Linked DNA regions of Homo sapiens: region 1 is linked to region 2. The links come from fine-mapping of genetic effects on gene expression. A gene starts in region 2. The other region holds a variant in brackets. All regions are shown on one strand. Distances are from middle to middle.

Evidence for each region. PIP is the estimated chance that this variant, and not a neighbour inherited with it, causes the effect.
Region 1: its variant is the best candidate, but not a certain one, in a credible set for the expression of PLAUR in whole blood (TOPMed, PIP 0.81).

The regions. Positions count from the first base shown.
Region 1 is chr19:43,690,314-43,695,688 of GRCh38, reverse strand. It overlaps the pseudogene LOC105372412. Among named protein-coding and RNA genes, the nearest start is that of PLAUR, 23 kb to the right of the region's middle. The variant C/T (reference allele first, on the strand shown) is at 2,674.
Region 2 is chr19:43,668,080-43,673,396 of GRCh38, reverse strand. PLAUR (plasminogen activator, urokinase receptor) reads left to right here and starts at 3,228. Exons shown (of 7, transcript NM_002659.4): 1 at 3,228-3,331. The coding sequence starts at 3,277. It overlaps LOC124904724 (a long non-coding RNA gene), which reads right to left and starts at 4,633. Exons shown (of 3, transcript XR_007067264.1): 1 at 4,214-4,633; 2 at 2,917-3,371. RefSeq lists an enhancer at 3,160-3,459 and silencers at 4,380-4,459, 4,500-4,729.

The DNA of each region.
Region 1 (5,375 bases), 22 kb before region 2:
CCGCTGGCCTTGGCCTCCCAAAGTGCTGGGATTAAAGGCATGAACCACTGCGCCCGGCTGGCCTTCTTAACAATTTTTAAGTGCACAATTCAGTAATGTTAACTATATTCACATTGTTGAGTGTAACAGCTCTCTAGAACTCATTTTGCACAACTGAAACTCTGTACCCATTGAACAACTCCCATTCCCCCGTCCCCCAACCTCTGGCAACCACCATTCTATCTTCTGTTTCAATGATTTTGACTACTCTAGATAACTCAGTGAAATCATACAGTATTTGTCTTTTTATGACTGGTTAAGCCACTAAGTTCTGGCCAGTTTGTTATTCAGCAGTAACTTAAACAACTATGGCAGCAGATTTCAAACTCACACCCTCCACTGCACCCTAGCCTCTGCCCTGCATGTCCAGGAAAAGGCTACAATGGCTGAAGCTAGGCAGCAAAGTGGGAGAGTGAGGATAGGTCTTGCTGTACCCCAAGCCCTATTTCTGTCCCCATGGGCACTCACCTGTGATGCCTGCCATCTGAAGGCAGTAGTGATTATCCTCTGGGCATGGAAGGGGGCCACAGCTGTGGAGGTCTCAGCAGGTGAAGCAGTCGGTGGTCTCAGCTTTGGTGTGGGTCACAGTTGCATGAGGACCTGGGGACAGAGGAAGATGAACTGGATGGAAGACAACCAGTGTGCATGCACGTGCATGGAGCTGAGTTTCCAGGCACATCAGTATGTGCCCATGAGTGCGCAAAAGTGCCTTTTGTGCGCACTTCTGCAAGAATGCCATTTGTGTGTGCAAGTTTGCAGGCCTGTTAAGTCTGTGTGCACATCTGGCTGTGCCTTCCTGTGTTGAATTGTCTGTGTGTTTCTGAAACTGTCTGCAGGAGGTCAGGGATGTGTGTTTTTGTAGCTCTGCAGGACACTGTGTGAGTAGGTGTTTACCTGCGTGTCTGTATAAACAAAGGCGTGTGTTTATGTGTATGTGTATAAGGCTGGTTTTATGGGTATGTGTGTGTTTCTGTGGCTGGGTGTGTCTGTGTTTCCATCAAGGTGTGGGGGTGCTTGTATATATATATATGTTGGTATACAGATGTGAACGTTCATGGATGTTGGTAATGTATTTCAGCTTGCCTGTGTATATTTTGTGCTTTTGTATGTTTGTGGGTGTTTATGCCTGTCTCTTTCCCATGTCATATATATGAAAGCCTGTGTGTCCATGCATAGATATGTTCTGTGTCTGTGTCCACAGGGATCATGTGTGCAAAAATTCCGCGTCCCACATTTCTGTTGTTAGTCTTCCTATTTTGCCCTTTTTCTTTCCATCTTGTAAATTTCGAGCTCCCAAGTCAGCCTTTTTTCTTCATTGTGATAATTAATTAAATCCGCTGCTCAGGGCTGGTCACAGTGACTCACACCTGTAATCCCAGCACTTTGGGGGGCCTAGGCAGGTGGATCACCTGAGGTCAGGAGTTCGAGACCAGCCTGGCCAACATGGCAAAACCCCATCTCTACTAAAAATACAAAAATTCACCAGGCTTGGTGGTGGGTACCTGCAATCCCAGCTACCTGGGAAGCTGAGGCAGGGAAAATCGCTTGAACCCAGGAGGTGGAGGTTGCAGTGAGCCAAGATCGCACCATTGCACTCCAGCCTGGCCGACAGAGAGAGACTCTGTCTCACAAAAAAAAAAAAAAAAAAAAAAAAATCCATTGCTTAGTTTAAAAAAGGAAAACTCCTGGCAGCTGGAGATTTGAAGAAGCTAAGGTGAGAATGTTTCGGCTTTGCCTGCAAATTCAGTAACTACACTCTCCTATCAGCCTTTTTTTTTTTCTGAGACAGAGTCTCTCTCTGTCACCCAGGCTGGAGTGCGGTGGCGCAATCTCGGCTCACTGCAAGCTCCACCTCCCGGGTTCACACCGTTCTCCTGCCTCAGCCTCCTGAGTAGCTGGGACTACAGGTGCCAGCCACCACGCCCAGCTAATTTTTTGTATTTTTAGTAGAGACAGGCTTTTGTCGTATTAGCCAGGATGGTCTCGATCTCCTGACCTCGTGATCCGCCCATCTCGGCCTCCCAAAGTGCTGGGATTACAATCATGAGCCACCGCGCCCGGCCAGTAAACACACTCTCTTTTGCATCACAGAATGGTTCTTCAGCTTTGGCAACGTAGGGAGGACCTCACCTCTAAAAAAAAAATTGAAAAATCAGCTGGGTGTAGCAGTGTGTGCCTGTGGTGCTAGCTGCTCAGGAGGCTGAGGTGGGAAGATTGCATGAGCTTGGAAAGTCAAGGCTGCATTGAACCATGATCGTGCCACTGCACTTCAGCCTGGGTAATAGACGGCGACTCTGTCTCTAAACACACATACACACACACACACACACACACACACACACACACACACACACACACACAGAGAGAGAGAATGGTCCTTTCTGGTGTAGTTTCTGACAAAGTTTCCTCTACATCTCTGGAGCTGAGGGAATGCAGCTGTATCCAGAGAAAATTGCCTTTCTCACCTCTAAAACGTCTATCCCTCTGTTCAGTTGGTTGAATTGCTTAATAAACTGTGGCCCCAGTAAATACTATTTCAATTAGCATATCACTTTTGCGGAAGACAAAACTTCTTGTGACTGTTCTTTGTTAAGCCAAAAGAAGACTATTGGCAAATCTGTCTTCTTTCACAAG[C/T]AAGGAAGTGAAGAAAAGAGGGAAAACACCATCAGATTTATCTTTTCTTTTCTTCCTTTTTTTTTTTTTGAGAAGGGGTCTTGCCCTATCACCCAGGCTGGAGTATAGTGACACAATCTCAGCTCACTGCGACCTCCGCCTCCCGGGCTCAAGCCATCCTCCCACCTCAGCCTTCCAAGTAGGTGGGACCACAGGTGCATGCCACCATGCCTGGCTTTGTTTTGTTGTTGTTGTTGTTTTGTTGAGATGGTGTTTTGCCATGCTGCCCAGGCTCAGATCCATTTAAAGAGAACGTGGATCTTTAACCTCACTCACATAATATGTTCAGAGTATGTTCATGTTTAGAAATTTGTGTGCCTCTGCATATTTGTTTTGGGTGCTAGGATGTAAATGTGGATGTTTGTGGATATGTGCCAATAGATGTTCTGCTTCTGAGTGTGTCAGGTGGTGTGTGTGTGTGTATGGGTAACTGTACTCATTGGGAGCATTATCGTAGGAAATGTGGACACCCTGGGAACACATAGGTTTGAAAAGAGCATAGGGGATCCAGGGAGGTAAGAAAGGTTGGGTTTTTAGGAAGGCAGGGGTCAAAGCACCTGGATGTGTAGGAGTAAGGCAGTTGCATTCAGGCTTAGCGGTGAGATGAAATCCAGAGTCTTCTGGACCCAGGGTGGCATTCTCATGTAAGTTGCAGACCTCTGGTGTAGCACAGCCCTTCAGAATTTGGGGACCCCCTGTGGAAATGAGATGAGATTGCAACAAGAGGCTCAGAGTCCAAGCCTTCCAACTTGATGTCTATCTTTCGCTATCTGAAAGTTGCCATCTTAGTAGTTCTATATGATTCAGTTTCAAATCTACCTGGTCAGTTTTTACAACCTCTTGTTGCCTGCTCACATTTGTGATTCTAAGTTTATTCCTTCAGACATATCACGTGCCGGTACGCTATGTTCTACAGCTGATAATTACAATAGCTGAGCTCCTCACAGGTCTGTATCTGTGATTTGTTATTTCTGCTATCACTCATGGTGGCTTGTTTCCTTGTGCGTTTCATGAACTATGATTGTGAGCTCATATTTGGTTGATATTCATCTGTGGGAATCCTGGGAGCTTTTCCCTGGGAAGGAATTGCTTTTGATTCTACTGAGTGCCAGGAGGTGCTACTGACCAGGGATCATTTTGGCTTCTGTCCGAGGTCCCTTGCTTATGTGGGAATCTAAATTCCAGAAGCATGCTGCCAGCCCAAGACCTGTTTACCTAAAGCAGGTTATTATCAGCATTTGCTCCCAGGCCACCATGCCTTCCATGTTTTCTCACTGCTCCCATTATGATTTCTGTTCACATTTTTGTTTTGCTTAGGGACACGTGGACATTTTCTTAACTTTCTGCAACCCCAAAAAGTGTGGAAAAATATTTCTGTACAGGATCTTGTTTATCTGTAAACAGTGGCATACCAAGCAGGGGAAGGGAGTGGGAGCAGTCCAGCCTGGGAACAGGCTACAAGGGGCTTAGTGTCTATAGAGAATTTTTTTTTTTTGAGACAGAGTCTCACTCTGTCACCCAGGCTGGAGTGCAGTGGCACAATCTCGGCTCACTCCTACCTGAGCCTCCCAAGTAGCTGAGATTACAGGTGTGTGCCACCATACTCAGGTAATTTTTGTATTTTTAACAGAGATGGGGTTTCACCATGTTGGCCAGGCTGGTCTCGAACTCCTGTGCTCAAGTGATCCACCCGCCTCAGTTTCCCAAAGTGCTGGGATCACAGGCATGAACCACCGTGCCCAGCCTATAGAGAATTTTTTTAAATCATAAAACCAACTAAAAATCAGTTTGCTTTTTATTATCACCAGGTAGTACCAGCAATTCTAAGCAATGTCAGTGATAAACTGCTCCTCCCAACCATGATGGGCCACTTCCTCTATTTCACTGTCTCAGTCCTCCACCTTCCCAGTGTGCCACTGTTTGGAGCAGAAGACCTTTTAGAGGATTGAGTCCACCATACTGCCAAAAGCAGAAGCCCAGGCTACTGCTCTCGATCCTTTGATTGGCTTCATAATTAGTCTATCCTCTGGCTACTGTGGTTATATTATAAATCTTTTGCTGAAAAGGCCTCTCCTCCAACTGTTTGCAAATCATACTGGTGATTTAAAAATACCTTTGCAAATCTATGACACATCAACAGGTGGGGTCCATGCCTCTTTCATCTTGAAACCAGATGGAACTTTTGTGACCATTTTGATCAATAAAGCAGAATAGAAGTTACATTATGTGACTTCCAAGGCTGAGACATAAAGACCAAGCAGCTGTAACTTTGTTTGCTGAATGAAATCGTTAGCCACCATGTAAAGAGCCTTGAGGTAGCCATGATGGGAGGAAGCTCAATCTAACCGATGTGGAGAGGCCACATAGAAAGGCCTGTGCTTACATATATGCAAGAGATGCTCAGAAAGCCCCTGGTTGTTCCTGCCCCAGCAGTTCCAGCTCTTAACACCCTCTGACTACAACATACGAGAGACTCAGAACTCTCCAGAGGAGCTCTTCCTGAATTCCCAAACCAAAGAAACTGGAAGAGATCATTAAATGATTGTCATTTTTAGCCACCCACCTTGTGAGTGATTTGGGGTTTTTTTGTTTTTGTTTTTGTTTTCGAGATGGGAACTTGCTATGTAGCCCAGGTTGGTCTTGAACTCCTGGGCTCAAGTAAT
Region 2 (5,317 bases):
TTGGGAGTTTTTTTGTTTTTTGTTTTCTAACCTTATCTTAAAATCATTAGCTTACAGCTTCAATGAGTTAGTAAGAATCACATAGTACAGGCTGGAAGCGGTAGCTCATGTCTGTAATTTCAGCAATTTGGGAGGCCAAGGTGGGTGGATCACCTGTAGTCAGGAGTTAGAGACCAGCCTGGCAGACATGGTGAAACCCCATCTCTACTAACAATACAAAAATTAGGGCCGGGTGCGGTGGCTCACCCCTGTAATCCCAGCACTTTGGGAGGCTGAGGCAGGTTGATCATCTGAAGTCAGGAGTTCGAGACCAGCCTAGCCGACATGGCGAAACCCCATCTCTACTAAGAATACAAAAATTAGGGCTGGGCGCAGTGGTTCAAGCCTGTAATCCCAGCATTTTGGGAGGCTGAGGCGGGTGGATCACCTGAAGTCAGGAGTTCAAGACCAGTCTGGCCAGCATGGTGAAACCCCATCTCTACTAAAAATGCAAAAAATTCGCCAGGCATGGTGGAGAATGCCTGTAATCTCAGCTACTCAGGAGGCTGAGGCAGGAGAACCTCTTGAACCTGGGAGGCAGAAGTTGCAGTGAGCCGAGACCGTGCCATTGCACTCCAGCCTGGGTAACAAGAAAGAAACTCCGACTCAAAAAAAAAAAAAAAATAGCCAGGCATGCATGAGAATCCCTTGAACCTGGGAGGTGGAAGTTGCAGTGAGCCGAGACCACGCCATTGCATCCAGCCTGGGAGACAAAGTGAGACTCTGTCTCAAAAACAACAACAACAACGACAACAAATCACATAGTATAATCATTATTACAGCAGTAGAAGTAGCTACCACTTACTCATCCCCTACGACTCTCTTCCTCTCCTAATCTGTTCCAGCCACACTGACATCTCTTCTGTTCCTAGAATCTCATCAGGCTTCCACCTCAAGGCCTTTGCACTGGTTGTTCCTGCTCCTTGGAAAGGTTCCCTGCCCATCTGCCCTACTTCTTCCCTCACTGCATTCAGCCTCTGCTTGAATGCCACTTGCTCAGGGAACCCCTCCTGGATCACCCACCTAAAACAGCTCACACCTCATTTGCACCCAGATACTTCCTTCAGCCTGCTTTGTTTTCTCCAGTTTGCTTATCCCTCTCAGACAGTGAAAGATTAGATAACACATATCTGCTCCCCACTGTCAACACAACAAAAGGTGGGAACTTTGCTTTGCGTCCTGCTGTGCCCCTAGCTCCTGGACCAGTGCCCAGCACAAAGTAGGTCCTTGGTAGATGTTAAAGGAATGTGTTGAGCCCTCCATTTCGGCCAGCAGCTATTCCAGGCATTGCACCTACATTAAATTGCTCTGTTTAGTTAGATGCATCCTAAGACGGGGAGACAATTTTATCTTTAGTATTTTATTTTACTTAAAAAAAAAAAAAACTTGGCCAGGTGCAGTGGCTCATGCCTGTAATCCCAGCACTTTGGAAGGACAAGGCAGGTGGATCACCTGAGGTCAGGAGTTCGAGACCACCCTGACCAACATGGTGAAACCCCATCTCTACTAAAAATACAAAAATTAGCCGGGTGTGCTGGCGTGCCCCTGTAATCCCAGTTACTCAGGAGGCTGAGGCAGGAGAATTGCATGAACCCAGGAGGCGGAGATTGCAGTGGCCGAGATTGCACCACTGCACTCTAGCCTGGGTGACAGAGTGAGACTTCGTCTCAATAAATAAATAAATAAATAATAAAAAGAAAGAAAAAACTTATTATAAGCCTTTTCAAACCCACAGAAAAGGAGACAGAATGGCATAATATGCCCTTATATACTGATTACCTTTATATAATTGATACAACCATTTGGCTATTTTGCCTTTATTTTCTACTCAAGTATTTATTTATTTATTATTTTTTTGAGACAGGGTCTCGCTCTGTTGCCCAGGTTGGAGTGCAGTGGTGCAATCATAGCTCACTGCAGCTTCCAGTTCCCAGGTTCAAGCGGTCCTCCCACCTTAGCCTCCCAACTACCTAGGACTACAAGTACGGGCCACTGCACCCAGCTAATTTTATTTTATTTTTAATTTCTTTTGGAAAGATGAGGGCTCTTTATGTTTCCCAAGCTGATCTTGAACTCCTGGCCCCAAGTGATCCTCCTGCCTTGGCTTCCCAAAGCATTGGTGTTACAGGCATGAGCCACCTCATCTGACCTCTTCTAAAATATTATAAAATAAATACAGACATCAAAATGAAAACAAAAGAAAAAGAAAAAACAAAACAAAAATCCCCAAAACAACAACAACAAAAAATGCAGACATCAATAACATTCACCACTAAATACTCTAGTAAGCATCTGCAAAAACAAACAAACAAACAAAAACCAGAATCCCACCTAAGCATACAGCCATTGTCGTAACAGTGATATCTACTTTTTTGGCTGAAGTGTCTTTTTTTTTTTTTTTTTTTTTTTCTGTGAGAAGGAGTCTTGTTCTGTTGCCAGGCTGGAGTGCAGTGGCACGATCTCGGCTCACTGCAACCCAACCTCCGCCTCCCGGGTTCAAGCGATTCTCCTGCCTCAGCCTCCTAAGTAACACACACACGCCACTACGCCCGGCTAATTTTTGTATTTTTAGTAGAGACGGGGTTTCACCATTAAGTGTTTTAATGTAGGTGCAATGCCTGGAATAGCTGCTGGCCAAAATGGAGGGCTCAACACATTCCTTTAACATTTACCAAGGACCTACTTCGTGCTGGGCACTGGTCCAGGAGCTGGGGGCACAGCGGGAAGCAAAGCAAGGGTTAAGTGTTTTAAGTGTTTAAGAGATGCATATTTCAGGATGCATCTCTAGATAAGGACATTTTCCAAAATACCAGTATCCCTCCTGACAAAACTAACAAAAATCCTGTTAGCCAAATAATCAGCCACATTCATATTTACCGTCAAAGTTTTTATCCTCATTTTACAGCAGTGGAGAGCGATTGCCCCGGGTCCCACGTTAGGAAGAGAGAGAACTGGGATTTGCACCCAGGCAATCTGGGGACAGAGCTGTGATCACAACTCCATGAGTCAGGGCCGAGCCAGCCCCTTCACCACCAGCCGGCCGCGCCCCGGGAAGGGAAGTTTGTGGCGGAGGAGGTTCGTACGGGAGGAGGGGGAGGCGCCCACGCATCTGGGGCTGACTCGCTCTTTCGCAAAACGTCTGGGAGGAGTCCCTGGGGCCACAAAACTGCCTCCTTCCTGAGGCCAGAAGGAGAGAAGACGTGCAGGGACCCCGCGCACAGGAGCTGCCCTCGCGACATGGGTCACCCGCCGCTGCTGCCGCTGCTGCTGCTGCTCCACACCTGCGTCCCAGGTAGGGGCTGGGTCCCGAACGCCTGCGCCTGGAACAGGGTCTAATTGAGGGGGTTGGGGGTTGTCAGAGGATGAGTTGGAGGAATGCGGTTCAGTCCTCAGCATCCTCCCTAATCAAATAATAGTAATTCTCGTGCTTTGTGCAACGCCACGCGGCGCAGTACCTGGCACTCAGTAGCTAAGGAAATATTAGTGGAGCAAAGGCATTTAGCTTTACATAATTTAGTGAGTGCTTTTTTTTTTTTTTTTTTTTTTTTGACAGAGTCTCACTCTGTCGCCCAGGCTGGAGTGCAGTGGCGCGATCTCGGCTCACTGCAACCTCTGCCGCCCGGGTTCAAGCGATTCTCCTGCCTCAGCCTCCTGGGTAGCTGGGATTACAGGCGCCTGCCATCGCGCCCGGCTAATTTCTGTATTTTTAGTGGAGACCGGGTTTCACTCTGTTAGCCAGGATGGTCTCAATCTCCTGACCTCAGATGATCCACCTGCCTCGGCCTCCCAAACTGCTGGGATTACAGGCGTGAGCCACCGCGCCCGGCCCAAGTGTTCTTTTTTTAAATGGAGTTCTTCGAAGCCTCTTCCTTGCAATTTCAAACTAGGCGATGGGACTTTATTAATTTCGTTTCGCAGAGGAAACTAGGGCACAGAGAGGTTAGATAACTGGCCTAAAATCACACAGCCAGTGCTTGAATACGCAGGATCTGACCCTGCAGCGCCCCCCAGCGCTCTCCACGCTGCTGGGTCTCCCCCTCTGAGAAACGGGGGGACAGGACCCCCTTTTACAAAAGGCCCAAAGGGAGGCTGACTGAGCGGCGCAGAGCCAGTGCTGGAGACCCGGGACTGTCCCTCAGGACCTTTCCCTCTCACTGAGGCGACTCTCACTTACTTCCCCGGAAAATGTGGGGGGCTCTGGGTCGAGGAATTCGAGAAGGAACTGAGTCAGGGCGGGTGGCCACAGGGTGTTGGGGCCGCGATGAATAACCCGGAAAGCGCTCGAGACCGCGGGAGGCCGGGAATGAGTAACAGCTCCGGGATACTCCGAACGCGCAGCTGGAAAGGGATGTCCGGGAAGGCCCGGAGGTCGGGGACCGGGCCTAGGGACTGGGCTGCAATCTCGGGGCGGAGCCTGGGGCGGGGAGAGAGTGTCGGGGAGGAGCCAGAGGGCGGGGCTGGAACCTCAAGGAAGAGCTACGGGAGAGGTTACAGACCGAGGAAGAGCTAGGAGCGGGGCTAGAACCTCGAGGCGGAGCCAGAGGGCGGGGTTATAACCTCGAGGCGTAACCAGAGGGCGGAGTTATAACCTCGGGAGGAGCTAGAAGGTGGGACTAGACTCTTGAGGGGCAGGATTATAACCTCGGGGAGGAGCTAGAGGGCGGGGCTGGAACCTCAAGGAGGGGCTAGGGGCGGGGTTATAAGCTTGGGGAGGAGCTACGGGGCTGGGCTAGGACCTCAAGGGGCCAAGGGGCGGGGGTTACGACCTCGGGGAGGAGCTACAGGGTGGGGCTGAAACCTCAAGAAGGGACTGGGGCGGAGTTATGACCTCAGGGGAAAACTAGGGGCGGGGAGAGCTAAAGGGCGAAGTTAGAATCTCAAGGAGGAGCTAGAGGGAGGGACTAAAGCCTCGAGGAGGAGCTAGGGGCGGGGTTATGGCATCGGGGAGGAGCTAGGGGGCGGGAAGATAAGGTCAGGAAGAGCTAAAGGGCGGGGCTAGAACCTCGACGATGAGTCTGGAGCGGGGCCAAAACCTAGTTGGAGAGCTGGAGGGCGGAGACAGAACTTCGCGGGAAACTAGAGTATCTAACAATAGAAACTCCGGAGGGCTGATGGGGCCGGGCCTAGAATTTGGGAATAAATTAGTGGGCCGGGAGAGGCTCTGGAGCCGGGTAGAACCAGGGGGAGTGAGTGGAGGGATAGTTCCATTAGGGCACTGGGAGTGACGGTATAACATAAAGATCGACGCGGGTGGGGCAAGGCTAGAACGTCCCCAGCA